Linked DNA regions of Homo sapiens: all the other regions are linked to region 2. Evidence: fine-mapped expression QTL. A gene starts in region 2. Each other region holds a variant in brackets. All regions are shown on one strand. Distances are between the middles of the regions.

Evidence for each region. PIP is the estimated chance that this variant, and not a neighbour inherited with it, causes the effect.
Region 1: its variant is the best candidate, but not a certain one, in a credible set for the expression of RYR3 in skeletal muscle (FUSION, PIP 0.51).
Region 3: its variant is the best candidate, but not a certain one, in a credible set for the expression of RYR3 in aorta (GTEx, PIP 0.63).
Region 4: its variant is the best candidate, but not a certain one, in a credible set for the expression of RYR3 in adrenal gland (GTEx, PIP 0.64).

What each region holds. Positions count from the first base shown.
Region 1 is chr15:33,382,046-33,390,153 of GRCh38, reverse strand. All of the region lies in intron 1 of RYR3 (ryanodine receptor 3), which reads right to left. Among named protein-coding and RNA genes, the nearest start is that of RYR3, 75 kb to the right of the region's middle. The variant G/AAAAAG (reference allele first, on the strand shown) is at 4,444.
Region 2 is chr15:33,306,173-33,314,280 of GRCh38, reverse strand. It overlaps RYR3 (ryanodine receptor 3), which reads right to left and starts at 3,314. Exons shown (of 104, transcript NM_001036.6): 1 at 3,185-3,314. The coding sequence starts at 3,235. RYR3-DT (RYR3 divergent transcript) reads left to right here and starts at 3,622. Exons shown (of 3, transcript NR_120327.1): 1 at 3,622-3,703; 2 at 7,850-7,949. RefSeq lists enhancers at 2,072-2,581, 2,582-3,093.
Region 3 is chr15:33,524,756-33,532,863 of GRCh38, reverse strand. RYR3 (ryanodine receptor 3) reads right to left here. Exons shown (of 104, transcript NM_001036.6): 4 at 2,198-2,272. Among named protein-coding and RNA genes, the nearest start is that of RYR3, 220 kb to the right of the region's middle. The variant C/A (reference allele first, on the strand shown) is at 3,489.
Region 4 is chr15:33,446,094-33,454,201 of GRCh38, reverse strand. All of the region lies in intron 1 of RYR3 (ryanodine receptor 3), which reads right to left. Among named protein-coding and RNA genes, the nearest start is that of RYR3, 140 kb to the right of the region's middle. The variant G/A (reference allele first, on the strand shown) is at 4,225.

The sequences.
Region 1 (8,108 bases), 76 kb before region 2:
GAGACTCTGCTTGGAATAACAGTACAGATTTCCAGCAGTGAAGCCAATTCATCCGGCGACATAAATTTCATTTACCACAAACATAAACCATGTTTTCAGCAATAATTTACATACCTGAAATGATAGAAATTGGAAACTAATCAGCATAGCCTAAATACATGGCCCTCTTCATTGTAACTTTTTATAGCCAAAGTGACCTTTCTTAGTGGCAAGGTAGCATATTTATAGGATGCTATTTTCTCATGTAATTCACTGTCATGTTACATTTTCATAAATATTACTGAAAGGTGAAATAGCTGCATGTAATAATAACCCATAAATACTAAACTGCATCCTTGAAAAAGCAGTGAAAAGATATTAAATAAAAGTTTGCAAAGAGAAAATTATTCACGATTTCACACAAAATGCCTGTTTTGCATGTTACCTTTCAGACTCTGTCCAGATCATATATATTTTATAAGGTTATGATCACATTGTACATCAAGGTTCAGATTTTAAACACAGGACAAATATTTTTCATATTTTTCCATAGATGTCATAATTGTCACTCCATTACATTACTTGCTGCGGTAGGAGACAGTTTTACTTTTAATCTGTGTATTAAATTCTTAATTTTTAATGCAAGTAATCGATACCCATTGTTACAAAATAGTCAAGAAATTATTTTAAATGAAAAGTCAGTCTCCCGCCTTACCACATGCCAGCTGCTGTTATTCCCTAGTAGCAACCACTTTTATTTAAATGTCCCTGTTTTTAATTTTCTACTGATCATCTCCATATCACTAAAAAACATACTTACACTATTATTTCTTAATGTATTGATTTTAGATATGATCTATTGATTGCTACTTTTGGTTTCTGTATGGGTTTCCTTTGTAATTACTTATCCCTTCATTTCTTATTCCATCTATGATGAATTTTTTTTTATTATACTTTAAGTTTTAGGGCACATGTGCACAACGTGCAGGTTTGTTACATATGTATACATGTGCCATGTTGGTGTGCTGCACCCATTAACTCGTCATTTAATATTAGGTATATCTCCTAATGCTATCCCTCCCCCCTCCCCCCACCCCAAAACAGTCCCCAGTGTGTGATGTTCCCCTTCCTGTGTCCATGTGTTCTCATTGTTCAATTAAACATGCGGTGTTTGGTTTTTTGTCCTTGTGATAGTTTGCTGAGAATGATGATTTCCAGCTTCATCCATGTTCCTACAAAGGACATGAACTCATATGATGGGCAGAATTTTCTTAATTCTCCGTTCTATAGGAATAAAGAGTGATGAGTGCCCTCATCTTCCCCTTCAGGTTTCCTCCCCAGCTTCACTCTGAAGCTCTCTGTTGTTCATGTTTACACTTTTATAGCATGGAGGTTGATAATACTTACATGCTGTTCTGTAGCCATGTCTGTCTTCCATGCTTTGTCTATAGGTGAATTCTAAAAGTTGAAATCAATGAACAGTGTCTATATAATGATGACTCCATAACTACTGTTCACTCTTAGAAGCCAATGGTATAGCGTAGCTCTATTTCCTTTATTTTATAGCATTTTATTTATCCTGGGATTTATACTTGTCCTTGTCTTCATTCTTGCAATGTTTGTATTGCTTCCTTATATGATCTAGGAAATTAAAGGTAGCAATGTACCTATAGAATCGCTTTTCCTCACTAATCCCTACTCTCTGATACCTCCTCCCAAAGCAATCATTTCTCCTGCTCCAATCATAACTAATTGTCAGTAAAATTCAGCTGTCAACCTGGGATTCTCCTTCCTTACTCTATTGGGTTGAAATTATTATTTCCACTATACCATCTTCCCTTTTACTTTTTTCTCCCACTTAGAACATATCTGAAAGATCTGTGTTCTATTCTTACACTTGCCTGATAGTTTTGCTGGGAAGAGAAATCTAAATTGAAGATAATTTTCACTCAAAAACTTAAAGTTTTACTTTATCAACTATCACATCCTTTGTTGCTATGGTTCCTGATCTTTTGCAGGTGGCCTGTTCTTATGTTTTCTTGTTTTGTTTTGTTGTTTTCTTCCTCAAAAGATTCATAAATGTTTCTCTTTATCCCAGGTGTTCAGAACATTCAGAAACTGTGTTTTCTCTGTAGATCATGTTTTATTTATTTGTGCTAGACATTAAGTGGCTCCCTTCATTCTTGTTTTTTAGTGTTGTGAAATTAAAATTTTTTTTATAATTTCCTCCTCTTTCTTTCCTCTGTTCTTTCTTTCTAGTCCGCCTAGACTTATTCTCTATAACTTATCTTTTCTCTCACATTCTCCATCATTGTTTTTCTCTATTATACCTGCCTCAAAATCATCTACCCTTTCAGTACTTTAAAAAACATTATACAGTTATACATTAAACGTTTTGTTCTTTGTTCCTTTTTTTAGAGCATTTTGTTCTATGGATGCAGTGTCTGCTTACATTTTTCTGAGAATCATAAGAAAAAAAATCCAATCTCTTCTCTATTTCTGTTTTTTTTTTGTGAGGTCATTTTTCCTGCCTATTCATCTTGTGTTCTTTTCTTCATTTTTCAGATTTTCTTCAAATATCTGGTGATCCTTAGTTGCACATATTTAAGGATCAAGCAACAAAAAACTGACAGGTACCTTATGCCCATCAAGATGGCTATTCTCAAAAAAATAGAAAATAACAAGTGTTGGTGAGGATGTGCAGAAATTGGAACCCCTGTGCCCTGTTGCTAGGAATGTAAAATGATGCTGCTGCTATGGAAGAGTGTGGCATTTTCCCAAAAAAATGAAAAATAGAATTGCTATATGATCCAGCAAGTCCACTTCTGGGTATCTACCCAAAAGAATTGAAAGCAGAGTCTCTTAAGAAATATTTGTACACCTATGTTCACAGCAGCACTATTCACAATAACCAAAAGGTGGAAGCAACCCAATTGTCCATCAGTGGATTAGTGAATAAACAAAACATAGTATATACATACAAGGGAGTATTACTCAGCCTTAAAAAGGAAAAAATATTGCTGGGCGTGGTGTCTCACGACTGTAATCCCAGCACTTTGGGAGGCTGAGGCAGGTGGATCACGAGGTCAGGAGATCGAGACCATCCTGGCTAACGTGGTGAAACCCCGTCTCTACTAAAAATACAAAAAATTAGCCGGGCGTGGTGGTGGGCGCCTGTAGTCCCAGCTACTCAGGAGGCTGAGGCAGGAGAATGGCATGAACCTGGGAGGCGGAGCTTGCAGTGAGCTGAGATTGTGCCACTGCACTCCAGCCCGGGCGACAGAGCAAGACTCTGTCTCAAAAAAATTAAAAAATAAAAAAAAAGGAAAAAAATTCTGACACATGATACAACATGAATGTTAAGACATTGCACTAAGTGAAATAAGCCACCAACACTCTACAATTCCGCTTCTATAACACATCTAGAGAGTAATCAAATGCATAGAAACAGAAAATTGAATGGTGGTTGCCAGAAGCTGAGGGAAGGGGGAATGGGAATTGTTATTTAATGGATAGAGAGTTTCAGATTTGCAAGATGAAAAAGTTGTGGAGATTGGTTGCACAATGATATGAATATACTTAGCAATATTGAACTGTACACCTGAAAATGGTTACGATGATTTTTTAAAAAGAGGACAAGGAGCTGTAGCAGAAGTACTGGGGCATTATCCATTGTCTTCTCAGCAATTACAATTTCAGCTCATGCTGGCATGACTCCAATTTGATTTGAGTGCACCAGCTCATGGCAATGTTTTAAATTTTTGACGCGAAAGTAATCAATATTAGCAACACATATTTTTATATTAACACTCTTCTCCAAGATATGGGCTCAGTGACATCTTATGAGTTGTTCTGTATTTGGAAATGGTCTTAATTATGATACAGCAAGGAATGAAACGCCAATGAGTTAAAGAAACTGCTCAGAACACAGGAGTTCTGATATTTAGTACAAATTTTCTAGGAATATACAAAGCAAGCAAGAGGGGTGGTGTTGGAAAGAAAAGAATTTCAGGCTGTATGAATCAAAAGAAATGCTACCACCTTAAGACAAATTGATATAGAAAGTTAAAAGATTTTCTTTTTAGCCTTTTAAATCCATAAATTCTATTTTCTTGAAGAAGGATTGTTTTTATTTTATAACAGTAACATGTTTTAAAAAAAAGAAAAGAGGCTGGGCACAGTGGCTCACATCTGTTATCCCAGTCAAGACAGGAGGCCAGGGCGGGAGGATCACTTGAGCACAGGAGTTTGTGACCAGCCTAGGTAACATAGTGAGACCTCATTTCTACCAACACTTAAAAAAATTAGCCAGGCTTGGTGGTGCACACCTGTAATCCCAGCTACTTGGGAGGCTGAGGTGGGAGGATTGCTTGAGCCCAGGAGTTGGAGGTTGCAGTGAGCCATAATAATGCCACTGCACTCCAGCCTGGGCTACAGAGTGAGACCCTGTCTCAAAAAAAAAAA[G/AAAAAG]AAAAGAAAAAGAAAAAAAAAGAAAAGAAAAAGGGGGCAGAAGTGTCAGCATATTTCTTGAAAATACTCAATATAGAGCCAACTCATTACTGTCCAAAGTCAGTATTAACATAGAAGATGAGTATTTAGCTTTACCATTCAGATTTTAAACTATGAGGTTTTTGTTTGTTTGTTTTTAACGTAGGACAATAGGTAAGTACTTTTTAACTTTGGAGTCTCATAACTCTATAGATAAAAGCAGTAGTAGAAGTAGCTATGGACTAAGAATGACTTGAATCATAATGCCCATTACTCAGCTAAAAATAATCAGTCGAACTGAAGTATCCTGGCATTTTCAGGGATAAAAAAGATAAATTCCATTTTCTCTGTTGTTAGCAAAGAGAACATATTTCTCCACCTTCTACAAGGGGAAAAAAAAAGTACTATTAAGCACAAGGGGATAGTATCTGGCTCTAATTCAATTCTGCCAAGAGGCCCAGAAGTAATCAATAAACACTTATTAACTAATCACGCAGCATCTCATTTCCGTGAGTGAAATGGTGAATGTTGTATACATCCAGAAAATAACCCTTTAATGTAGATGAAAAAGTAGAGGAATAAGGAAAAAGCTGTGGTAAGTGACATAAAAAATTTGATTTTACGTGAAATTTCACAGGAAACTGTTTAGCTTTCTTTTTCGTATACCTTGCTGGCACATCTAAGGGTGGAAGGGAAAAACATCAAGGCTAAAATATTATGGTCATATTTTACTGTTTCTTTCATAGTTATCCTTTAAATGCTTCCGCTATAGTGTTGGAAATTCCACACTACCTCCAATCAACCCTTAGAAAATCGTTAGTCAAAACAAATGCAGTCAATTTCAGGTGGGGGGCATGTTAAGGAGGTGTTGGTCAAAGGATACAAAATTTCAGGCAGACAGGAGAATAAGTTCAGGGGATCCATTATACAACATGGTGATTATAGTTAACAATACATTGCATTATTGAAAATTGCTAAGAGAGTAGAGTTTAGATATTTTCATCACAAAAAAATGGTAAGTATGTGAAGTAAGGGATAGGTTAATTAAATTTATGTAGTTATTCCACAACGTGTGTGTGTGTGTGTGTGTGCATATATAGATATGTATATATAAGGTTGTACACCGTAAGTATATATTAATTTAAATAATATTAATTAAATTAATATTATTATATTATTAATTAAAATAATAGTATAATTATTATAATATAAAATATAATATTATAATATAATATTATAATTATATTAATTAAAATAATAATGACCAAAAAAACAAGTACAAAATACCCAATTTGTGTTGACAAAACTCAATTATAATCAGAGGAGCCAAGGAATTTTTCAGATAATTCAGGCAAAACCCGGATGCCTCTGGCCTGCATTATTTAGTAGACTCTTCATCCACTTTACCTTTTCGTGTGCCTTGAGGAAGGCAGAAGATTTAGGTTGCTATCCTCTCTGAAAGCTTAAAAAAGATAAACAGTCAAGGCATCTTTCCTCGGTCTGGGTCCAAAAGCTGTATCTTACATATTTGTAATGGCAAGATTCTCAAAGGGAGACCTAGCTTTAAACCTAGGAGACAGGACTTGCCTGCCTATCAAAGGGGGGCAGAGTGCACAGGACAAAAGCCATTGTTTTGTTTAGCTCTCACTTACAAGTGACAACATGTGGTATTTAGTTTTCTGTTCTTGCGTTAATTGACATAAGATAATGGCCTCCATCTGCACCCATGTTGCTACAAAGGACATAATTTCGTGCTTTTTTATGGCTGCATAGCATTCCATGGTGTATATGTACCCAATTTTCTTTATCCAGTCCACTGTTGATGGGCACCTAAGTTGACTCCATGGGTTTACAACTGAATAGTGCTGCAGTGAACATACGACTGTATGTATCTCTTTGACAGAATGAATAATTTTCCTTTGGGTATATACCTAGCAATGGGATTGCTGGGTCAAATGGTAGCCCCTGGGGACTGCTAGATGGGGGAGGGTGGAAGAGGGGCATGGGCCAAAAATACTACCTATTGGGTACTATGCTCACCACCTGGGTGTTGGTACCATCTGTATGCCAAACCTCAGCATCATGCAATATATCCATGCAACAACCCTGCAAATGTACACCCAATTAAAAACAAAATGGTCACACCAAGTAGAGACTAAGGTGGACTCTCGTAGTTTGAAAGGTAAGACTCAGGTATTGTGGACCCCATGAAAATGCCGGACATTAACTCATGCTATTATGAAATCCAGAAGGCAATTTCCGGAAGATGCCAACAGGGATCACCAGTCAGAGGTACCACAAATATGACATATCACCGAAGTGTGGCGTATCTCAAAACTGCATTCATTTTTCTGGCCTTTTTCTATTTTTTCCTCTCTCATGACGGCAACACTAGATAGCCAGTTGCCACAACAATACAAAGCTGGCAGTCATGTCACACTCCTCCCTCCTTTCTCACATGCATATCCTGGAGCTCTGACATGCTCATCATTCACTTTTCCATCCTCTCTTGGTCTTGATCTTCACTGTTACCCCCATCACTTACTGTCTGGGATCCCTGCAACAGTCTCCAACACTCACCTAGTCTCCCTGCCTCCATGAGGCACTTCTTCCATCTCTGTTTCCTCACTATGGCCTAACAGTCTTTTTGAAATATGATTACATTGTTTTCTTATTTCAAATCTGTCAGAGGTGCTAAGTCATTCTAGGTATGAAGAATTTGTTCATTTTTTAACTGAAGAATTTTTTTTTTAGTCATGATAATACAGCTACAGGTTTAAAATTTCAAATATTACCAAAGGGTATGAAACGACTCTTGTCATTAAAATGTAAGGATCATTTTCATGAAATGTAAGTTGTTCACTCACCCCATGCCCCCAGGGCTCCTACTATTAACAGTACCACAAAATTTTTCTATGCATATATATGTGTTATATTAACAGATATGTCATATACAACATTTTACACAAATGCATTTTATGTAATTTATATTGAAGATTACGTCATATGAATGTACACAGATCTACTTCATTCTTTTGCACAATATTGAAAGTATAAAATGTCATTTTTTGGGGTGGGCACGGTGGCTCATGTCTGTAATCCCAGCACTTTAGGAGGCTAAGCAGGTGGATCACCTAAGGTCAGGAGTTTGAGAGCAGCCTGACTAATATGGTGAAACCCTGTCTCTACTAAAAATATGAAAATTAGCCGGGCTGGTGGCTTGCACCTGAAGTCCCAGCTACTCAAGAGGCTGAGACAGGAGAATTGCTTGAACCCAGGAGGCGGAAGTTGCAGTGAGCCAAGACTGTGCCACTGTACTCCAGCCTGGGCGACAAAGCGAGACTCCGTCTCAAAAAAAAAAAAAAAAAAAAAAGCCACTTTTAAAATTAGCAGTTCCTGTGGATATTTATGTTGGTACCTATACTAATGCACAACCAAGTTTTAATACCTAAATTCAGCAGACGAGTCCCTTATGATCTGGCTGCTGCCTACACACTTTGCTTCATTTTCCTTTACTTCCCCATATCCAGTTTTCCTTCCAGCCCCACCAAGCTTCTTGCAGTTCCCCAAAACACCATCCTTCTAGGTTACATCTGCTTGCAGTGCCCTCTTTGGCCTTTCATTGGCCAATTATCATCTTTTTAAAG
Region 2 (8,108 bases):
GGATGCCACTGCCAACAGCAGTGGGAGGGAAAATTTTAGCCTTAAAGATTCTGTCTATCTGCCTGATTCTAACTGGCATACATGACTGTCAGTGATTTCAGAAGGCCAGAAGAGGGTATATAGTTTTAGACTGCCTCCTTAAGGCTTGGGGTACAGTAGCATTTAGTTCACATGTGTTTAAGCTTCCAAAGCCCTTGTTTAGGTCTTGTTCCCTACTTAGGAGAGGGTGGGCTTCCAAATGTATCAGAGGACATAACCAAAATAAACACTACCACAAATAAGTGTCTAAAGCCACACCACACACACCTACAGTGGTTACTGCAGTAATTCTGGCTCATTTCACACTATCAATAGTTCTAGCTGCTTTCATTTTTGGCACTATTATAACAAACCTGACACTACAACCACTAACAATTTGATTAGGATCCTTGGCATAATGCTATTGTATGGTCTTTTTTTGTAAATAGGTTAAAAGCTTCTGCTCTCTGGGATGGCAATCCTTTAAAGTTCATGGTTACAAAGATATGATTCTATTCCATGGTCCAGTATGAGTCACCTTCTCATCCAGGACCATGTCGATGTGAGGAAGCATTATATATGACTAATACACTGCCAAAATGCTTTTAAAGGTGTTGTCTGGGGAGGAGAAAGAAAGCCTAAGGCAAAGGTAACTGAGTGAGTTCAAAGTGAAATAGCTTCCCTAACCCAGACATACCCAGAGGAGAGAAAAATCCCACTGCTAGCACAAGCCTGGTGTTCCCAACTACCCTAAAGTCAAAATTTTGTGCAGAGATCAAAAGCTTATGGCTATTGGATTCCAAAAAATCATTTTGTCGAATTCACAGATGAAGAAGGAGGATGCCAAGCTCAGAAAGCTGCAGTACTCCTCTTATGTTCTTAGGTATATTCTTAAGACTATATATAACATCTGGCGTAACGCTCAATGCCAGGCTCTAGCGGGAATGTAATTGAACATTGTATAATGAAAATTACCAATAACTTGTCAACAGCTATGTTCAAGTCACTCGATTTCCTGTGCTTCAGTTTCATCACCTATTTCCTTCCCAGTGAGCTAAAAACAAAGATGTTAAGGTGCCTCATAGGGTGAAGAAATGAGGAACACACCTTAAAAAATACATAAGGTGATAACTAGAAGGAAAAGAACCAATAACGCCACATTTGGAGTCACTGCCCCCATGGTTACCACCATCACTCGCTCTAAGCCATAACCGGTATGCAGTTCTCTGCAACAGGGGCTCTGAACCTGGGTCCTTGAACCCCACAGGCTGTCATGGGTGTACTTTAAAAGAGGTCTGCCAGCTCTGATCTCTAGGGCAGGAAGCCCAGGACACAAAACTTAAGAACCACTACTATAGTAAACCTTGGCTACAGGTGTACCAAAAACAAACAAAAACAAAAAACACTTACAATGCCAGATGGAGAGGAAAAGTCAGGGAAGATGGCTCAGAAGCCAAGAGAAAAGCATAAGGATCTCACAACAACTACCACCTTCCTAAGCCTCAACTCCCTGGGACATCTATTCAACACTGACCCTGTCTGAAGATAATTTTTTCAAGCAATAACGCCTAGAAGATCATTAATAATAAGGAGAAGAAATGACTGATCATGGAGGACACAAGGCAGAAAAAACCTGAGCTGCCACCCATCCACTACTAAAGACACCTGTCAGAGGGACAACCAAAGGATTTGATGGAGCTTTGAGGGGAGCAGGCAGCTTTATAACAATAGGGTTGTCATGAGTTGCAACTGTGGGGCCATCTTGTGTGCAGTGTGAGAGATGAGAATGGAGTCTGGGTCTGCAGGTCAGACGAAGGATGAAGAGATGAATACTCTAGCCTCTCAGTAGTACCAGCAGGGCGATAGGTACTTCCATACCCCCCCCAAATAAGACCCAAGTCCCAGCTTTGACAAAAGAACCATGTTTGGAAGAGAAACTGAAGTAAATTGGAAGGAAGCGCTTCAACAGGAGGAGAGTGGTTCAAAAGATGGACAAGAGGTAAGTTGTGATCTTCGAAGACCAGGTCATGGAGAAGGGGGCACCCTTAAAGGGAAGTGAGAGAGGGAAAGAAAGAATTTCATTCTAATTCCTGAGAGCAAGGCAGCGCATATAAAATTACCTAAGATTTACAGAGCGATTTGCCGTTTACAAAACATTATGACATTCACGATAACGTTTAATCCTTATCACCCTGAAACGCTGGTTACATTTTATTTTACACATGAGGAAACTGAGGCTGAGTAGGGCGGATTATGCGACTTGCTCAAGGTCACTTGGCTGAAGTCAGCGCTAGGATGCATCCCCAATGCCCCCACCCCTCCGGGTGGCCGTCCACCCTGAAAGTCTTTGTATTATCTCCTACAGGGCAAGGCTGGTGTGGCTGCAACAGACTTCGCCCCCTCACCCCCAAATCTGGGACGGAGCAGCGCCCTCAGGTGTCAAGGAGGGGACCTGAGTGACGCGGAGCCACTGACTGGGGTTTCCCTGTCCTGCGGGGCTCGCGGGAGCCAGGAGCAGAAGCCACAGCTCTCGAACACACGACAGGCAGTCAGTCAAGTCAGGCTCCAGCAGCAGTTGCCGGCGTGGGGCTTAACACGAGAGGGGCAGCGCTGGGTGAATTCCCCTCCGAGCGATCCCAGGGCTAGGACCAAGCGCCTGCGCCCGCTTCTCCGACCCGGCTCCCCACACTCCCCCCTGCCCCGCTGGCTCCTTCCCGGAGGTTCCCCTGTGCGTGGGGGCGCCCTGGAAGAGGAATGGGGCTGGGGTGGAGTATGGAGGTGTCAGAGGGCCGACCCCGGGGCGAGGGCTTCCAACGCCGATCTTATGGGTCAGGACAACCGCGAACAAACCCCGGCTGAAGTTTGGGCATCAAGGGTTTCAGACCAAGTAGCAAGTTGCCTGGAGAGCGAGCGGTCCTAGGTGGAGGGCCTGGGGCAGGGGTGGCGGTAGGGGAACAAGGGAGAGGCAGGAGATGGTGCCCCTTCCCACGCAGCCCCTCGCGGCCCCGCGGGTAGGTGGCCGGTCCGCCTCTGCAGCCCGCGGGTGCGGAGAAAGCGCCCGGCACCGGGCACCCGGCACCGCGGCGCAGCGCAGCCAGCCCCTCCTCGCCGCGCTCCGCGCTCCTCCCCACCTGCCCACGGCCTCGCCCCCGCCGCGGAGACTCACAGTCCTCAGAAACTGGATCTCGTCCTCGCCTCCTTCTCCCCCTTCGGCCATGGCTCCCGAGGCGTCGGCGGTGCCCCAGCCTCCGGCGCCTCTGCTTCCCCCGGCAGCCGCTCGGCGTGCGCTGACTGCTGCTGCGCTCTTTCTCCTCCTCCTTTTCGTCCTCGTCCTCCACCTCCTCCTCCAGCTCCTGGCTCAGCCTCAGCCTCAGCAGCGCCAAGCTAATCCCCGACCATATAGGGAGCTGGGCTAACACTCCACTGCACTGCAGAGCGCCAACGCCAACCAAGCAGTCCGCCCACCCCTCTCGCCTCTCGCCCCAGCCAAGTGCGCTGCGGCCGCCCGCTCCGTGGAGAGCGCAACGCTGGGCGCGTCGAGCTGGCGGGGGCGGTGCGGGGGCCCTGGGCTGGCGCGGTGGAGCCTCCCCCGCACCGCTGGGTACCGCACCGCACACTCAGCGGAGGCGCGCGCCCCGCGGCGACCGGAGGATGTCCCCTAAACTGCTCCAATTCACAAACAAAGGCCAGTTGCTTAGCTCCAGCGCGCCCAGACTGGGTACCAACCCTCTCGCTTTGCTCGCTTTGCCCGCTTTGCCCACTTTGCCTGTGTGTGTGTGTGTGTGTGTGTGTGTGTGTGTGTGTGTGTGACAGAGATAGAGAGAGAGAGAGAGGAAAGAGAGAGACAGAGACAGAGAGAGAGAGAGAGGAAAGAGAGAGACAGAGACAGAGAGACAGAGAGAGGAAAGAGAGAGAGACAGAGACAGAGAGAGAGAGAGAGAGAGAGAGAGAGATCTGGACTCGAATACCTTGCTAGGACCCGCGTGCATTGTTGGGCAAGGAGAAGACGGTGCAGTGAGGAGCGAGGGTGATTGTCCACTTACAACAAAGTTTGCAACTCCCTGGATAGTCCTTTCTACACCTTAAGAGAACCCCTTCCCCTCTTCAAAATTGGTAAGTACACTTTACCAAACCCCTGGATTGTCCAGGGTTGCTGTGACTTCTGTACCCCAGGGAGCTTCTGGGGGATCCTGTGCCACCCTCAATTTGGAAGTCAGGTGGCATCACAACCCTTCCTCTCTGCCCACCCCTAACCTTATTCTGCATTTAGAGTTCCAGCCCTGTGGACTCTAAAGGGAGTAGAGAGTAGTTACAGGAGGCTCCCTTCCAGGTCCTGGAAGGCTCCTACATCCCACCCAGCCTTAGGTCCTTTTCCATGGTTGGGGATTGCCAGATTGGTCCTTGCCTTGACTGACGGTGCAGGGTGCCCCCTTCTGTTTGATGGCCGAGAAGCTCCAAGGCAAGAGACTGTTCAAGGCAAAAGGCACCAGAGATGTAGATTTAGGAGGAAGTGCAACTGGGAAGGTGGTAATTCTGGGCTGATGATGGTGGAAGACACTGGAAACCCCAAGCCATTTCACAGCTTCATATACCGCCTCCTTGTGGACGACATCTATCTCTTGATGCTACCTTAAGATCTCTTTCCTGAGCTTCCGTCCCATATGTTCTGATGAACATCAGAAATGCAAAGAAAAATGTTTTTTTCTTGTATTGTACTCAAACTGCTACCTTCTAGGCTTCAGCTTGGGCCTTGTGCCTCTTCTGAAACCCGCCTAGAATAAGTCAAACCATCTGTACATTGTGGCCCTTCACCTCTTAGAAGGCATCTGCCATGCTTGCCTCTATGGCCCACCATCCACTCTTTTCTTCTCCTGGCTCAAGGTTCTTCTTAGCCCCAACTTTCCCTGTAGTATAGTTTCCAGAGCCTATGTCATCTTTGATGGCCATATGAGCATTCCAGGTGGTCTTCTTCCTGAATTGTTGTGCTCTCCGTCCTTGTTTTGGACAGTCTTTATGTGCAGCCTAATATTGGATTGGCTTCTGGAGAAACACTAATGACACTCACTGTGTTTGGAGTTAACTAGAATTTCTAGATTTACTTTTTTCCTCCCACGTGAACTGCAAAAGTCAGCTCTTCTCCATCTTGATCACATGCAAGTGCTTGAGTACCTGTGGGCACGGTGGCTCACGCCTATAATCTCAACACTTTGGGAGGCCAAGGCGGGTGGATCACCTGAGGTCGGCAGTTCGAGACCAGCCTGACCAACATGGAGAAACCCCATTTCTACTAAAAAAAAAAAAAAAATACAAAATTAGCCGGTCGTGGTGGTGCATGCCTGTAATCCCAGCTACTTGGGAGGCTGAGGCAGGAGAATCGCTTGAACCCGGGAGGTGAAGATTGCCGTGAGCCGAGATCATGCCATTGCACTCCAGCCTGGGCAACAAGAGCGAGACTCTGTCTCAAAAATATGTGTGTGTGTGTGTGTGTGTGTGGGTGGGTGTGTGTGTGTTCCTTCCAATTGTAATACCCAATCATGTATTGATGTCTCTATATGTGAACCTTTAAGGTATTTTTAAAGCTAGAGTATGCCAGGCAAGGTGCTAATTATTACTAACCTGTGATATGGCATACCTTCAGAATACTAATAGAGGCCCTCTTGGATTAACTTTCATACTTTTGATTATGCTTAATATGGCATACCTTCAGAATACTAATAGAGGCCCTGTTGGATTAACTTTCATACTTTTGATTATGCTTATTTAATGATCAAGAACTTACCTAAGTCAGAAAAATAATACCTATTGAGTACTATGCTTATTACCTGCGTGACAAAATAATCTGTACACCAAACCTCCATGACATGCAGTTTACTTATGTAACAAACCTACATATGTACCCTTGAACCTAAAATAAAAGTTATAATTAAAAAATAACCTACATAAATATATTATTTTGCAGCCCAAATTTCTTCTTGTTCATAGGGCTACTATAAATGCCTTTCTTACATACTTTACTGAAATACAGATATGTAATCTGGGACACCACCTCCCGCATCAGTCAAATAACCCTACCACAAAAGAAGTAAGAATGGAGTTCTGTAACACCATTGGTGCATCCACTTGGATTCCTGATGGTCTTTGTGTTCCTTTAGAGTTCCCAAAAGTAAGCTGTTTAATTATCAAAATCTAAGATTGTTCTGGAGCTCAGCGTATAAAAGAGTCTCAGGCTGTTGTTTCAGACTGTAAACTGGGGAAGGTGGACATTTACTTCTATTTGAAATCTATTGGTACTTCTTCCATTCTCTAAGATTTCCCAAAGATGCACCAATAATGATGCTGTAGTCATACAGGTACAGATAAATAGTAGTTCAGACACTGTGCTTTGATACTTGTTTTGCTATTAGTTCACCCATTAAGACCGGGAGAGAATAAACTAATAGTAAGTTACTTGTCTAAATTCATACATCTAGTAAAAGGAGTCACACAATCTCCTCTTACTTGGAGTAAAACAATCTCAATACTTTTCAGTACTTTCTCCACTATAGTGCCTTGCTTCTAGAACAGCAAAGTGGAAAACATCAGGTTCATACACCACCTCCATGCCCCCATACCCCATACACATTGGGTTTGCTTCCACACAGCCTATATTTTAAACTGAGTCTCTCTCAAGACCAGTTACTCTTAGTAGAGAGCCGGAGGACTTGGACCTTAGGTCTTAGAGGGTACTGTAGCTACTACATTTTGAAAGAAAAACCCAAAGCCTCCCAGGTTTCTAAACCTCTGGAGAAAGCTATCAGCCATTATTATGACTTCAATTAGGTGCACACAACAGGGAAATCAAATACCTTTGGGATACTGGCATGGTTCAAAGTCAGACCTCAAAGCCTGCTGTATTTGAATGTTGGGGCACTCTGCAGCCAATATCAACAGCAGGTGGAGAGCCTGTAGTGGGGGCCAAATCAGAAATTTTTCATTTTTATCATTATAGCACTTTTATACCTTTTACATATACAATTTTAAAGGCCTGACATTGAAATATTGTTATTCAATATTGACTATTGAAATAAAATTCATGTATTTATTTTCTCCTCTGGAGGTTCTCAAAGTATTGGTCCTAAGGATTTTCTCACATAAGAGGGCCTCTTATTTGTGTTTTAACAGTAATATTGCTATAGTTTTAAAATGCTAATGAAAATGTCCACACTCATATAAGTCAGTATCTCATTTGCTATGTTGTATTATTCATGGTAGCCAGTTGCCCAAGTGGTCTCAATGAGGCCAAGGATATGGATTCAGTTCTAGGAGGGCCAGTTAGCTTCACTCCATTTGCTGTCCAAAGACTCTGGCCCCTTCATTCTGGTTAAAAGTCTCATACATCTTTGTTCATTTAGCCATAGGGGAGGCAGGCTTAAGCTTTAACAAGCTAGGACTTCCCATGCTTGGAGACACAGAAGCTAAGAGGTCACACTTGATAAAGATAGCCTTCACCCATGTTACTAGCAATATATTAAATTCTACACAACACTAAATCTTTCTCCAATATCCATTTCAGCCTCACTTCCTAACTATAGCAGCCATCCATTTGCTGAAAATGCATTTCTTCCATTAATTGCGCTCATGGCTTTGGTCTGCATTGACTCAGGATTTGCCTAAGGAACATATAAAAGGGAATGATGCAAAGAACTGTAGAGTTGAGGGAACTGACTCTGCTAGCTACCATCTTTTAAAATATCTCACCATATACACAAGTACTATTATATACTGACTGAAGATTTATTTGTTTTTCATTAGCAAAAAGAAAAAAAAACACTTTTCTCTGCTTTTTGTTCAGGTGTTCCAAGGCAAGAAGTTATTTTCACCAGGGAAGCCTGTGAACAGAAAGAGCTCCTGAGACTACACCTGCTTTTAATTTGGTGTCAGTAGGAACGATGGTATACACATTTTACAAAAGTCATTTTTTAATGTTAAGAAAAAATTATCAATTGTTTCCAAGATCTTTATAATAAGCTACTAAATTGGTATACTAATATAGCTTTGTCCTAAAACTTGGAAGCCATACCAAAAATCCTTGATTCAGATTCCTTTCTAAA
Region 3 (8,108 bases), 220 kb before region 2:
ATTACACATGTGAACCACCCTATGCCCAGCTGAAAATACTTTTACAATACACTTAAAACCTCAAAGATGCTCTTATCTGATGACTCAGTAGTTAAATGTATAGAACTATATGTTATAGAAATGAGTTAGAAATATTAAAGATGCCTTAAAGATGTTGAGAAACTTTTAAATTAGGAACAATACAAATGGAACATAAATGACCAACAATAATAATAAAGCTAGATAACCTTTGATACTGCTATTTTATATAATATTATGTTATTGAGTATTTATCAAGAATGTGTAAGAGCCTGGAACATTATTTACAATACATGAAGCTAAAAAGTAATATATAAAATAGTACAATTATAAGTTAACCTGTACTCAAAAATTTAAATGTGTAGCAACCAGACTAAAAGGAATTACACAAAAATGAAACAGAAGTTGATTTTGGATAGTGTGGAGGGACATGGATGACCTTCCCATGACCATGGGACAGAAGGTCCCATGACCTTCTGTTTTTGGTTTTTCAAATTTTCTATGAGCTTTAAAACTCCTCAAAATAATGGTTCTTTTTCTTATTATAAAGATACATGGGCAGGTAAAACTTAGAAATGACTGTTAAACTAACTTAATAAAGCATCCCATGGCCTCCTTCACTGATGGGCATAGCTGCTCATCTTAGGATTAGACTGAGAGGCAGGTAAGCTCTTGGGATGTGCTTTCTAAGCCACAGTTCTACTTCTCTGCGAGAGGAAGATGGAAAATCATTGCAATGTAGAAAGCCATATCTTATAGGCTTTATTCCCAGAGCTGTACTTAAAAGGAGCTAGCCAGTAGAGAGTATATGTTCACTGTGAGTAGAACTTTTTTTTAGGAGGGGTAAACTTAATGTAAATAATGCAAGTCTTTGTGTCACTACCATGATATTAGCTTGTTTTTGAAGCCATAAGAAGTATGCTTTTGAAGTTCTGTTTATTACATTTAGGTAAAGACAAGTGTTGGAGTTTTATTTACCCTATAGATAAACACCAGATTCTGAAAGATAGTATCACCTTCTCAATTCCAGATATTATCAGGGTTCAAAGTTTCCCTACTCTCAAAAACATCTCCATCTCCTACTTGGATACACTTCCGTTTGGACATTTTTGTTTTTCGTCTTTTGCCATGAAGGACTACAGCAGACGAATGTTCAGGCTGAAAAGGTCAGCCTCTTACCAGTGCTCAGAAAAAAAAATATATATATATATATGCTGCAGCAAATGAATTATTTAACAGGCAGCTGTTGCTCCTGTTGTCAGTTTGATAGTTCAAGCCTTGAGATGAACTTTGCATCATGCTGCTGGTATAAATGTGTGGAAATAGTCTTGAATTAACGTATCAGTTTTCCACTAGGGCTAGAGGAAAATGACAAGCCTTTCTTACACCGAAAGAAAGTGAGGATGATACACTATTGGAGTGGCATATAGTTGATTGAGTAATAATATTCTCCTTAATACTCCCTGCAAAACTACAATATCTGCCTTTTAAAATATTGTAAAATTATATTTTTTTATAAATTATAAATAAATTATATTTAAAATGTAGCAATTTTTTCAAGTTACATTGAGGCATCATCCTTCTGTCGATTCTGGTTCTAGATCCCTGATTAGTAATAGCCATGCAGCTTTCTGTGACTACCTTGCCTCTTGTCTTCCTCCTGGCTCTGGATTAGCATCCCACCTGCAAGTTCTTCCAGGACTGAAAACAGTGAGTACCATTCTATTTCTCTTAGCTAGGTAAAGGAGGAGAACTGTCACAAAATTTCCATTTGATTGGTTTTTCTTCTATGCTGGTTATCCTTGTATACTAAAGCGCTCTGTTACTCCATAAGCCATTTGATCATGTGTCAATTCAACAAATATTTATTGAGCATCTAGTATATCAAAGCACTGCATTTGGTGGGGTTATAGGTCTAGCAAAATAAGAAAGAAACATGGCCCTCTTCCTCAGGGAGTTGGAGGTGGGGTATCAGACATTGATGAAACAAAAAACACAATTGCAATTATTGCAAATTGAGGTAGGTCATATGTAGGAAATGCCAAGAGGATAACGTGCTAAAATTAGTTATGTTCCAATTGTTCCTGCTGTTACGTTGTTATTGCTGGCTTCCTGTATTTCCCCCTCTTCAGTTTTTCCTTCTCCTTGAATGATGAAAGTGGGCACCAGAGCTGCTTACCATTCCGCTGAAAGAGTGCCTCAGGAGAACTGCATGGCCGTATAACAGGGTCCTGTGGCCACCTCCTTGTGCTGCCTGTGGGAATGAGGAAGAATAAGGTCAGCACATGCCCGTTGTGGCTTCTCCGGGAGCCAAGCAACACAATAATTCTGGGAGACAGACTACCAGGAAAAGACCCATTGCAAAGCTCCTAAGGAATTCATTCCAGAAGCAAGTGGCTGGTCTACGGGCAGAAAGAGACGTGTGACCACAGCCATGCAACATCCTTGGGAGAGGGTGTGTGGGACCAAATCTATTCCCAGAAATGGCCTCTGCCCAGGATCAGCAGAAACCCAGAGCTGTTCTACCAGAGAAGCATGTAAGTGACATAGGTACTGCTTACCTTCCTTTGAAACTTCTCAGAAGCGTTCAGAGTGAGAGAGAGAAACAAATGTGATGTAGCCATAGCCTAGCAACACAAAGGCAGTGTGGCAGGCGGCACATGGTCACATTCTGTGCCATGCAGTCTTTTCCCTTCAAGGCACTTATGCCTTCTGCCCACTCCCTTAAATGGGTCCTTTATACACAGATCTCACCAACGAGAGATGGCTCTGAAATCCAGGACTTTAAAAGGGTAACCAGTTATGCAGAAATAGATCCTTCAGTTGAGAGACCATCTAGGTATCTTCTCTGCCTCACCAGGCAGTTCCACTTTGGCTATTTGCTCAGTGGCTGCCCAAACAGTGGGAGAGGGAGGCATGAGAGGGAGAGATGGCCCGACATAAAGCCACTGGTGTCTGTTTCTTATTCTTTCCCTGAATCTGATTCACACGTCACCATGCTGAACTGAATGGTACATGATAGGAGACAAAACTGTAATTTATTATAGTTAGAGGTGAGTAGGTCGCATGGAAAATGGAAATCTACAGAAAATTCTAGGAGTTTTTGGCATCAACATTTCCAACCTCTCACCTAAGTATCTCTTCATCATGCTAACCAGCAATCAAGTTTTTGATCACACACCCTTTTTGGAGAAAATATTTGAGCATAAGCCCTCCCCTCCCCAAACATGCACAGAAAGAGAATCTAAAGCTTGAGATAAAAATTAATTATGAAGATAATTCTAGCATTTTTCTTCAAGGACACCTCTTATGCAGTCCATTTTATTCAGAGTTACAGACTGGCAGCCCAAGGACTGGTTTGAGGCTCTGCCCGTCTCCCGTGTCCACCTGCAACCACACCAATGAGCAATGCAGAGGAAAGGGAATCAGGTAGTGTGGAGGACAAAGCCTGGAGTAATTTTATTTCAATT[C/A]TATTTGGATTAATAGCATCACTCTGTCAAAAAGATGATTTTTCATGTCACATAATGAGCCTAAAGAAGAGAAAAAAGATAAACGTGGTATCATGTTCCAAAAAAGCCGGTAACTAAATATAAATGCGGCTGCGCTTTTTCCCACAGCTACAGAGATTATTTAAGTGTTCTCCAGGCTTTAATACTGTGTGGAATTACAATGCTCTTCACAATATTTTAAAATTTCTTGAAATCATCTGCACTAACTTTAGTTTCTGTATTTATAAATGTGTCAACAGCTAATGTTAAAATTAGACATACCAAATAATTTTCACATCTTGCCAATCTACCAAAAATTGATCTTATCCACTTATATTATTACAAGTTAATGGATGGCTCCTGATGGCTTACACTGTGGGTGTGTCCTCCCAAAACAGTCCTACATCTCAAACGGATCCACTGACCAGCTTATACTTCCTACCTTCCTCCAACTCTTCTTTGTCCCTACCAACTCTCTAATCATAAGAAGAATTAAGAGTCACTGATCCCCAAAAGCTGGGGGAGGGGGGTGTCATGTTTTGAGAACCATTGCTTTCAGGGAACAAGCAAGCTTCAAGTGCTAGAATGGCAAAAGTGGTTTTCCTACAGAGCTTTTGATAATTATCATCATGGTGATTACTACCATTGGGCACACACTACTGAGGTTTACAGAGATTAAGTAGCTTGCTCAAAGTCATATAAGTTCCAAGTTCACAGTCAGGATTTAACAAAAGTGAGGGCACTTAACTATGTGCTATACTGTCTCCTTTTCTGAAGTTTGATGATGGGGGATGAGATTTGTGTATAAAAATGATGTTACAAATGGAAACACCTATTAAAATAGGTGAAGGCAGAGAGTATTGAAATAGACTAGGAGGATAAAGAGGTATCATGCAATGACCTTATTGTAAAAGTAGGCCACAACATTCTGGTAGGACTGTTGACACACCTCCATAGTAAGAGAGGAGCACATGTGGGCAAAGGTCTGGAAGTGGAAAGAATAAAGCACATATGGGGACTTGCAGACCATTCGCTGGTTTGTGGTGGGGTGGATGAACAGGAGTAAAAGGACATGACACAGGATGTAGGTGAGGGGTGGCCAGATTATGGAGGGCTCAGACTGACTGGCTCAGTGGATGGACTTTGTTCCACAGCTAACAGGATACTGGAGTAGATTTTTGAAAGGACAGTGTCACAATCAAAATTGTACCTTAGAAAGGGAACCCTGACTGCAAAATGGTGGAAGAAATGGGACGGTCAAGCCACAGAAGTAGAAAAAAAAATAGTCTCATTCCGTTTCCATGAAAGCATTACGAGGGGTGAGCAGACCAGAAATCTTGGTGTCATCCTTCACTCCTTTCTTCTTCTCATACTCCCCCATTAGTTCAAAGCATCTTTCGGTGCCACCTCCAAAAGATACTCTGTATCCCACTACTCAGCACCTTGCGCCTGCCAGTCTAGTCCATTCTATTGCCACCAGGTCTCACCAGGGTTTTGTTAATCACCGACCTTCCAACTGTGCTCCCTGCTCTGCCCTTCCTCCTTTCAGTCACGGCAGCCAGAGACATCCTTTAAAAACTGTCAATCACATCATGTTACTTTCTTGCTCAAAAACCCACAATGGCTTCCCACCATACTTAAAATACAAGTACAAAGTCCTCACTGTGGCCTCTAAGGCCGTGCATCAGGCAATTTTTTTTCTGTAAAAGGGCAGATAGCAAATATTTTAGGCTTTGTGGGTGAAATATGATACGCCTTTTTTTTTTTTTTTGAGACAGAGTTGTGTCCCTCTGTTGCCCAGGCTGGTGTGCAGTGGTGCAATCTCGGCTCACTGCAACCTCTGCCTCCCAGGTTTGAGCAATTCTCCTGCCTCAGCCTCCCTCCTGAGTAGTTGAGATTACTGGTGTGCACTGCCACACCCAGCTAATTTTTGTATTTTTGGCAGAGATGGGGTTTTCCCATGTTGGCCAGGCTGTCTCGAACTCCTGACCTCAAGTGATCCACCTACCTCAGCCTCCCAAAGTGCTGGGATTACAGGAGTGAGCTACCATGCCCGGCCTTAATGTATTTTATTTTATTTTATTTTTTAAAGAATTTGCCCTTTAAAAAATGTTTTAAAAACATTCTTCTAAAAATTTAAAAACCTCCCTTACCTAAAGGGTTGTACATAAACAGGCCATAGTCTGGATTTGGCCTGTTGGCTGTAGTTTGCATATCACTGCCCTGTATGACCTGGTTCCCTCATACCTCTCTAACTTCACCTGCCAGCAGCACGCTCTCCATCACATCCTCTGCTCCAATCATACTGGTTTTCCTCTGTTTTTCAGACACGCATGCTCCCACCACAAAGCTTCTGCACACGTTTCCCTCTGTCTGAAATGCTCTTCCAATATTCTCATGGTTAATTTCCACCCTTTATTCAGTTCTGTGCTCAAACATCTTATGAGAGAATTCTTCTCTGGTCAAGTCTTCTAAAAGAACAATCATCCTTACTCTGTCACATTTTCTGCTTTATTATCTTCTGTGGTATTATTTTTAATATGAATTTATTCTCTCTCCCCCTAGAATATAAGCTCCATGACCATGTTGTATCCTCTGCCATGCCCATGTCAGTGCCCGGCACCATAGGAGGCATGCATTAAATATTTCCTGAATGAGTAAGTAATTAGGGGAGGTGGTGTTTTGGTTTCATCTTACAGATGGAAAAAAAAAAAAGGCATAGAGAATTTAATAAACATTCCCATGACGAGCTTGTCAGCAACGTGTTTGGATTTGAACTTAGGTCTAACTACAAATTCTACTCTTTTCATTGTTTGATACTAATTCTGGAATAACATTCCAGGAAAGGTGTGATATGCTACATAGAAGATTGTGTGGGTCTGCTCACAAAGGAGGTCCAGACCTCAAGACTGGGAAGATTTATCAGGATGGCAGTCCTGTCCCTGCCACGAGTGACCTTGGCTATTACCACTGGCAGAAGGAAAATATTTGGTTCCATCTCGCAGGATGGGGGTGGATCAGGGAAATGCTGGTAAAAGGCCCTGATGCCATGTCCAGAGGAAAAATGTTCCACTAGCTCATTAACTCAATCCTCGTGCCCGTAATTTCAGAATTAATTTCCATTACTGACGTTTCTTCTAGTAGTTCCCAGAGGATATTTCTTCCCAGTCAGATAAACCAGATACGGCAACTAAGGAGGGGAGGGGACTATGCTTCTGTCCAGCCACACACAAATGTTTCAATACTGTTAGAGCTCCAAACTAACTTCCTTTAACATCTCGAACCCTAAATTCCACTTTGGGAGTCCCAGGCAATAAGAAATCTTCCAAGGCCTCAGGAAGGCTCCTTGCTGAGTTTGTTTGGAAGGTCATATTCCTAGGAGGTCTTGTAGGGGATGAAGTCATTTTCCAAGCATGGATGTGCACTTTAATTTTCTCTTCCTTTCACACCTCACTTCAGTTCCCCTCTTTTAGGCTACAGAAGAAAGAAGTCTTTCTGGAAGCTCACAGAACAATATTTCCTGAACAGGCTAGAGCCCTTTTACATTGCCTGGGAGGTTTGCATTTCCTTTGATACAAGTGACAACTAAATAGTAATGATGCCTTATAAGTAGAAAACAATAATACTTAACAGTAGAAATAAACAAAAGCAAGTCACCCAGTATATTCAGTTAGAAAGCATAATGAAAGATTCTACTCATGATTTCCACAAAATGTTAAATTTTTAGAAATCTGCTTAGGTGAAGGCAACCTTTAAAATCAAACTACAAAACCTCATTGTATAAAATAAGATTTGATTTGATGAAATGGAAAGGTGTACTTTGTTACAGGATGAGAACATTAATATTTGTAACTGCTTATTCCCCTAAATTTAACTGACAGATTTAATACAGTTTTAATTACAATTCTAGTGCGATATTTTGCAATTTCACAAATTGCTACAAAACTAATCTGGCAATATAAACAGTAAGGATTTTTTATTCTGAAAAGAACCAAGGTTTTAGTAAATGTTATGAAGCCAAGTTCATTAATTCACTCTGATACTCTGATTCAAAGAGAAAAGTGTGGCACAATACAGACAGTCCATAAACAGGTCTGACTATATGAAAGTGTAGCATATGACAAAGCAGATTTCAGTACAACAGGAGAAAGGCGGGGTTATTAAGCACAAGTCTCTGTGAGATGCGGATGGCAAATGAGAAAAGCTTTCAGTAAGATCCACAGGAAACATAAAAAGATAAGTTACAGATGGATAACATAATTAAATATTTCATTTTAAAATTAAATTCTAAAACAACTAGCATGCAACGGAAGAGTCTACATTCTTCACAGACCTAATATTTATCCATGCTTTGATGCATCAGATATACTCAAAGGCAATAGAAGACAGATACGATTGTACCAAAATTACTGAAATTCAGAACAATGGAAACACCAACATTTAATAGACTACAGAAAGACTTTGTAACACTATGACAAAAGGGTTACTATCTCGTTGAAATGTAGGGAAAAAAACTAAGCCTCATAGAAGTCGGCAAAGAATATGAATAAATGACGCATATTAGAAGAAAATTCAAACATATGGAAGAGATTCTATCTTTTC
Region 4 (8,108 bases), 140 kb before region 2:
AATTTCTCTCTTTACTGGATGCTCCATGTCAACAGAAGCCATGTTTTCCAATACTACAGCATCTTCGCAAAACTTTGTCAAGTGAGCCTCCCACCTCACAAATCACTGAAGGAACAGACCAGAAGGATAGCCTCCAGCCTCACGCAGAATTCTTATGATGTCTGCTTAGATTCTGAGCTATTGCCAATTTTCAGGTCCAGTACCACTGTCCAAGCCTCAACCTGGCAAGAATTCAACAATTCTTCATTCAAAACAAGTCAATCATTTACCCGCTGGATCCTAGGAAAGGACCCAATGAAAAGAAAAGGCTGTGTTTGACTCACTGTTCCTCTCCAACAGAGTCAAAGGGTTAATCATTTGTGTGCAGTCTGGGTTCCTTGATTGTAAATTAACTTTTTTTTCATATGAAAACACAGGAAGACATTAGTATTATTTCCCTAATACTTCTTTTAGAAAAAACATCCTTATTTTTCTTTCCATAGAAAAATCAGGAAACTGCGTGGCAACTGTTGCAGAAACACAAAGACGATGCAACTCCACATGCATATTTTCCAAGTATACCAGGATTTGTGGTACAATGGACAGTTAACATTTGTATACAGATATACATTCTTTGGGAGAATCATCACTATATTACAGCAGTTGTTCCTTTTTGCACCAAACCTACAGAACTGTTGTAGGTCTTATTTTATATTTCTGCTTTTTTATGGATAAGCAATCAATATATAAGACTTTCTCACCCAGGCAATCATGGAAGCAAATGTTGTTTCCTTTAGCCACATACAATGGTAGGAATATTATGCAGAGATTGTTCTAGAATACACAAAAGTCCCCAAGCAGCTAAAGTACTTTTAAAGCTGAAAAATGCTGGTAAAATCAACTACATCTGGGCCAGAATCAGAGGTAAATCGACATAGAATGCCTAAAAGCCATCTGAATAGTAATTAAGGTTTATTTTTTTTCTACAAATCTTACTTTAATATAGCACTTAACCTTTCAAATGTTCTTAAGCCAACAAATGGATGATTTAATAAAGGTCTTAGTTTATTTTGAGCTTTGAGATAGAACTTGTTGCTTGACTATATTCCATTTTGAAGCTTTGGCCTGCAGTTCAGGCTGCTGCCCCTAAGGAAAAAAACCCTAGTTTCAAGTGCAGCAAACCTCACTGGAGTCTTCAAAGGAAGGAGAAAGGTTGGAGCCAGGAGGCTTCTGGCAAATGTTGGTATGAAGATTTGCTTGCAGACAAGTCAAACATTCAGAGACTGAGCCTCCATTGACCCTAACAGATTGCTGTAGGTTTTTCTGTAATTAGGAATAAAGTATTACGGTGTTTTTAAAGTCTGTCTTGTTCACTGATTAATTTCACTACTTTAAGTTTCATATAAAATCCATTATAGCAGGGTAGGGAAAACTACCAGGTTCTGAAATCAGACTGTTTGGGTTGGAATCTTCTCCCTGAACCTCACCATGTAACTTTTGGCAATTTTTTTAACCTCTCACACCTCAATTTTTTTGGCTGTGAAATGGAAACAATAATAGTCATTTATTCACACATTGTTTGAGGATTAAATGAGTTAGTAAATATAAAACCTCCAAAACAGTACTTGTATCTAACAAGTACTCAGTAGATATTGGCATTTTGTTATGATCTATCATTATATTTAAGAAGCCCTTTAAGAATAACGAATACTCAATGGCCTATGTCTTCTTATAATAATAGAAATAAGTAGTCTGATTTTCATAGACATATTATTTCTAAAGTTGCAGCCAAGATTTAGAAGAAATGGGACTGATTTTTTTTCTCTTTGGTTGCTTTTCTGGCAATTGAGATGCTGCTTTAAATCTAAGCAATATAAATTATCCTTGATAGATTACCGATCCAAAGCCACAGTATCAGTCCTGCTTTGGAAAGTTGGAAGTTAAAAAGAAATATCTTGTTTCTGTCCTGCAATGAACTGGCAGCACTCTGGGTGATTACCAGGGCAGAACCAACAATGAGAAACATTCCCTTTCAGCCCTGATTTGTACCCCATAACTGAGCTTACTCTAAAAGAAAGGCTGGATCGCAGCCTTTGGAACCAATTTTAATTCTGAAAGAGGCAAACACACATGGCCTGGCCCCAGAGTCTTGTCCCACTATCACGTCTGTTTGGTTGTTGGAGCATGGAGGCCCTTTCCGGGCCTTCAACCAGACTTCAGTGCCTTAGACAGTTTGATTAAGTCTGTGATTGTGATTTAATTTTTAAAAAGTCACCAGAATGAAATCCCAAAGACTCCGGTTTGAGTACTGATTAGATTATTCACTGGCTGCATGGCTTTGAGCAAATCCCTTAATTTTATGAGCTTTATTTATCAACTGAAGTTAATAATGACGAAGTCAAAGACTACTGTGAAGAATAACAATCATACATGAAGATGCATCCTATAAACTATAAAGCAGAAATATTAATAACTCAAATTTTCAGGCTTCAACTTTTTTAGTCTCTCACTTTGCATGGGATTCCATCTTCCTTGCTATGTCACTCTGGACTTGACTCCTGTCTGCACTGGACTAGGCTTGTCTTTGGACTTGACTGTGACCTGAAGATCTTCCAGCCTCTTTTCCATCCTGGCAAGTTCTGGCACGCTGCTGCAGACGTCACTGACGCATTAATAATTCTGGAGTTAACATAACCTGCTTGTCCACCTCACTCACATGATTGTGGAGCACATTTTTCCCCAGTTTTTTTTTTTCCCCAAAATTTAGGTTCCTTTTCCAAGACAATCTTGACAATTTATAACAGAGCTATGCAGCCAGTGGTCACTCTCATCCGTTCATTTTATACTGTCCAGCCTCTATCAGGCTAAGCTAATGGGAACTGTTAATATCCTGAAAGATAAGTGGGGAAGGGGTAGAGAGAGAAAGGAGCAGAACAGGGTGCCCGTTTGAATAGAGGTAATGAAGGTCACTGCTATCTACTGGGGGAAAGTGGAAGGAAGCCACCATTTATGGAGTGCCTGTTATGTACCAGCTCTGTGCCAGGCACTTTATAAACAGTACTTTATTAAACACTGACAATGATCTCATTTGCATTTTACATGTGAGAAAACTAATAAGGTTCAGACTATCTGTCATTTACCCAAAGCTACACAGTGGTAGAGATAAAATGAGGATCCAGGTTTGCCAGCACAGATTTGCCTCTAACAACATTGGGTTGTTTCAGGTGCTGCAAGGAGTCTCCAGTAAGGACCACACGATGCTCCATTCTGCTTCCCTCAGTGATCACAGCAAACCTCTGAGGGAATGGGAGTAGGCACTGGAACTTGTAAGCCAGAAAGCCACCAAACATGCGTCCTACCTTGGGGCCTTGAGGAGTAAGTGGAATAGGAGACACACAGGATTGCACTGTTTCCTGTGGTTTGCGCACATGTTTTAGAAGCTCCCCTTTTTCTCGGCACATGCACATGAACTAGGGATGACTAAAACCCATTTACTTGACATGAAATTCATGAAGCCAGGACTCAGTACTCTGCAAGGTAAGGATGCTGCAAGGTGTGCAGTGTAAATAAAAGATACATACGTAGCCCATAAGCTGACATTGTATTAAAAAAAAAAAAAGAACCCTCAAAAAATTCAAGAACAGAGGGTGCAAGGAGCTCAAGGAGCTCTGCCTAGGAATAGATAACGTCACTCTGCTCCAAACAGTTTTGTCTCAGCACCTCGGGCTCTGTAAACTGCTGTGTGGAGAACTTTGACTTAGAGAAGCTTGAGATGAGGGCGGGCGGCAGAAGCGTCTTGCTGCTTGCAAAGCTACAGGGTGTACAGCCTGGGGCTTGGTGGCATCCAGTCCCTGCCCTCTCTGCCTTCTAGCCTTAGAAATCCATTAAACTCACAATCAGAGTCTTGTTTTCCCAAATAAAGTACAGCCATTAGATTCAAGAACTAATTATTTAGCAGGATTTTTATCTCTAAGGACAACACAAAATCTCAGATTCTTGGTCAGACATCTGAGCCCACTAAGCTGTATCTGAGTGAAGCCATGCAGGGTGTGGATGCCCCTGGAATTCTCCCATTTGAGAACTGTAACTGCTAATGCTCACAGTTGCCGGCTTTTTTTTTTTTTTTTTTTTTTTTAGGTATTAATGCTCTAGCCGCAGTAAGGACAGGAAAAAGCAGGATTGAGATAACAGATAATTTATGGATACTTTGCCTCTAGAAGGGAAGGGCAGGGCTGCCACTAAGCA[G/A]TAATTCAAACTAGGTTTAACTTTCCTTTTGGGTATTCTCCACCTCATCCAGTCCCCATTCTACTTCCTCGGCTGCCTTTGTCCCCCTCCTCCCAGTCCCACCCAGGATTTGGGGGATCTTTATGCTTCCCTCTGGTTAAATACCTTCCTTTCACACCAGCATGAACACCGTCTTTGAAGCAAAGAGATCCGTGCTCGAAAATGACTGACCTACCCTATACACCTTGCCAAAACTTCTGTTCTCTTGACGTTATTGCAAAAAGCAATCTGATTAAACTTAGAGGAACCATCAGAATTCTTTCAGGTTTCATTATGGCATTTGTGTTATTTTTATATTCAGCATGGGACAACACACGACACTGTTACATTTTAAAATACATTACTAATAAAACAAATGTATTTCTATAATATATTTAATATTCTGCCCCCCATTCACACTATGTTATGTAGAAACCTCTTGAATAGCCTTCAGTGATTCCTGCCTCCTGGAGCTCACACCCTTGTGCAATCCCTGCCCGGTGAGTATGGGCTGGACCTAGTGGCTTGATTCACGATGTCATTGCCAAGATTATGTTACAAGGAGACTGTGAGTTTCACATTGTACGACCCCTCTTTCTGTCTCGCTTGATCACTGTGGAATCCACTGCCTTACGGAGGGGGTCATGTGGTCAGGAATGGATGTCTCTGGTTAACAGCCAGTGAGGACCAGAGGTCTGTCCCAGCTAGGTGAGTAAGCTTGGAAGTAGATCCTCCCCCAGCGGAGCACTAAGGTGACCACAGCCCGCACTGACACCTTGATTCAGCCCTGTGGGAGAACCAGAGCCAGAGGCTGCAGCCAAACCACACCCAGATTCCAAGCCTACAGGAACTGAGGTAATAAGTTTGTTGAAGTTGCTAAGTTTGGGGATAACTTGCCACTCAGCAATAGACAATTAATTACTCTCTCTGCCACAAGTTTTGAGTAGTGAAACTCTTTCCGGGACTACTTCTCAGGCCCTTGCGTCACAAATACCTGACGTTTGTGGCACCACTTCCCTTTCTAAACCTGTGGAAGACGAGGATAATCAGTGACCACGTTCTCTCCCCCACACTCCAGGCAGCCGCAGCCACTTCCAATCAGCTGCAAGGGGCAACCGAGACAGAGCCATTGACCCTCAGGAGCTGACTGCACAAGAAAGGTCCTGCCACCTGTCAGCCTCCTCACCTAATGAGGCCAGAATCCGCTTCCCAAAACCATAATTCTCTTACTCTTTGATTGTTTTCTCCCCAGGAGCCCAACTGCACTGAAATAGTGAAAATACAGATTAAAGTTGATTTCTGGATAAACTTCACCTTTGGTCTAGCAGCAAAAGGCCCTCATCATTACTTTGTCACCATCTGTGGAAACTCTTGTACATACTTTTTATTTTATGTACATTTCCTTGTTAGTGCTCAGCCACCTTCAAATCTCGCTCTCAAGGCTTTGCCTTTGTTTTTCTCTTCAGAAATGCCTGTTTCTCTGAGAGGTCTACAATAGTCTCCCCTGATGGGGGTGTTTTATAACTCACAGGGAAACATGAACAAATGACTGGCCTCCTTCACCCTTTCAGGGTCCTATTCTTGTTCACTGGTAGATTGGGTAGCCTCAGGGCAAAAGGTATTATCCTGCTCTTAGTCCCACTGAAACATGACTCTGATCTGGAAAAGGGAGAGGAGCAAAAAGCAGTCATGAAACACAAACTGTCTCCATATTCTCGAGGCCAGCAGCTGGCCAGACGTCTGCTTTCTTGAGAGGGGCTGCTTATCCTCCCGGAGGCCCTCACTGGAAGACTCAGCCACCTCAAGTCACTGGAACCAAGACAAGAGAGAAGAAACTGAGGCCAGGTTGGTCTGAAACAAAACCTCAGATAATTTGCTTTGCTCCAATTTAACCTCATTGTAAAAGGCATGTAAGTTGAAATTACAGTACAGGACCATTTTCTATCTCTTACATTGGTAATTTTAGAAAATATATTTTTATTATTATCCTGTCTCTGCTACTTTCCAATTTGGGGGACCCAACTTGGGCAAATTACTTAATTCACTGAGCCTCAAAAAGAGATTTGAGTTTAACCCATGGTAAGTGCATGCTAAATGGTACTTATTACTATTATCATCTATTGAAGTAAACAAAAAGTTATGAGCTGGGCTTTAGAATTATGCTGAACAAAAGAACTTTCAGTGATGATGGAAATGGTCCGTACTCTGTGGCCACTAGTCATGTGTGGCTATTGAGCCCTTGAAATGTGTCAGATGTCACTGGGGAACTGAATTTTTATTTTATTTAATTTAACTTTGCCTAGCTACATGTAGCTAGTGGCCTCCATCCTGGACAATTTTATCTGTGACAGTCCTTTCAAGGATGATCTTATCTGTGAAAAAGCCCATCGTCTCATGTCCTTCCCAGAGGGAGCACAACCCAATGCCTGCTCTGACTGGAGTACTGCAAAATACAACCTTAACCTCCTAAGAAGTCCAAAATCCCAATACTGCTCGGAGGAAAGTAAGTGGGCATGGGGTGGGGAAGGAAGTCCTTTTAGGAAAACAGAATGCTCCTGACCTACCATTAACAGAATGTCCAGTTCTCCTGTTGCTTTGAAGACTGCCCAGTTCATACCCAGTTATCCCCATTCTCAACTAGTCACCCTAATGGCTACTGGCTGAATGAAGTCAGGGGGTTCTCTGTGTGAAGGTAATTAGAGTACAGGAATTTATCATCATGAATACCAAGTTCTAAGCAATGAACAAAAGGTTACCTTTATTGACACTACATGAAATAGAAGCTGTCTCCAAACTAATACTAACACATGTACATCCCACCTTTTCTTTTACTAAGCACTTATACTACGCCAGGCTAAATAATAGAATGCAAAGTTGAAAACGGCCTTTGGCCTCATTTCTGTCATTCTAATCAGGGCTGCAGATGCAAGTAAAGAACTGTGGTGCAGGGTGAGACGCACTCTACAATGGCATAGAAGAGTCTGCCATCAACTCCATTTGTTGGGGAAAGAGCAGGAAAAAAGTTTTCTGAGAGCAAGAGGCAACAGAGCAAGGTGGTGAAGGCGTTGGAGAACCTGCCTTCTACAATATATGTAAGAGAAGGAAGAGTAACAGCTGTTAATGACACTAAAGTGCTAAAAGGAAGCTGTTAAGTTTCTGCACTAGAGTGAGTTTTCTGGCAGAACTAATTAAGATTGGGATACTATTATGGGCTGAACTGTGCTTCTCCAAAATTCATATGTTGAAGTCCTAACACCCAGAGTACCTCAGAATTTACCGTATTTGGAAACAGTGTTTTATAAATGATAATTAAGGTAAAATCAGGTCATACGGTGGGCCCTAATCCAATCTCACTGGTGTCTTTAGAAGAAGAGATCAGGACACGGACACACACAGAGGGCCGACCATGTGAAGACACAGGGAGAAGACAGTCATCATCTACAAGCCAAGGAGAGAGGCCTCAGAAGAAACCAAATCTGTTGACACCTTGATCTCGGGCTTCCAGCCTCTGTAACTGTGGGAAAATAGATTTCTGTTAAGCCACCCAATCTATGGACTTTATTGTGGCAGCTCTAGCAAACAAATACAAACACATTAAGCTTATTTTCATACCCAACTTTCACCCATGTAAAGAAATATTAGTATTTATTCTAAAGCTTCCTTATCTGAGAGGGAAGAGCTCAGTTGTCCTAAGTCTTCAATTTCGAAAGAAAATCTCAATCTCTTGCCTGGTCCTTGCGAGGAGAACACTAATTTGAGCAAGAGAATCAGAAAAGCAGAAGTTAGTGAGGTCAGTGGTAATTAAACGAATTTTCTCCAGGTGGCAGAAATAGTCCCTAGTTTTCATTCTGCACCTCGCCATGGAT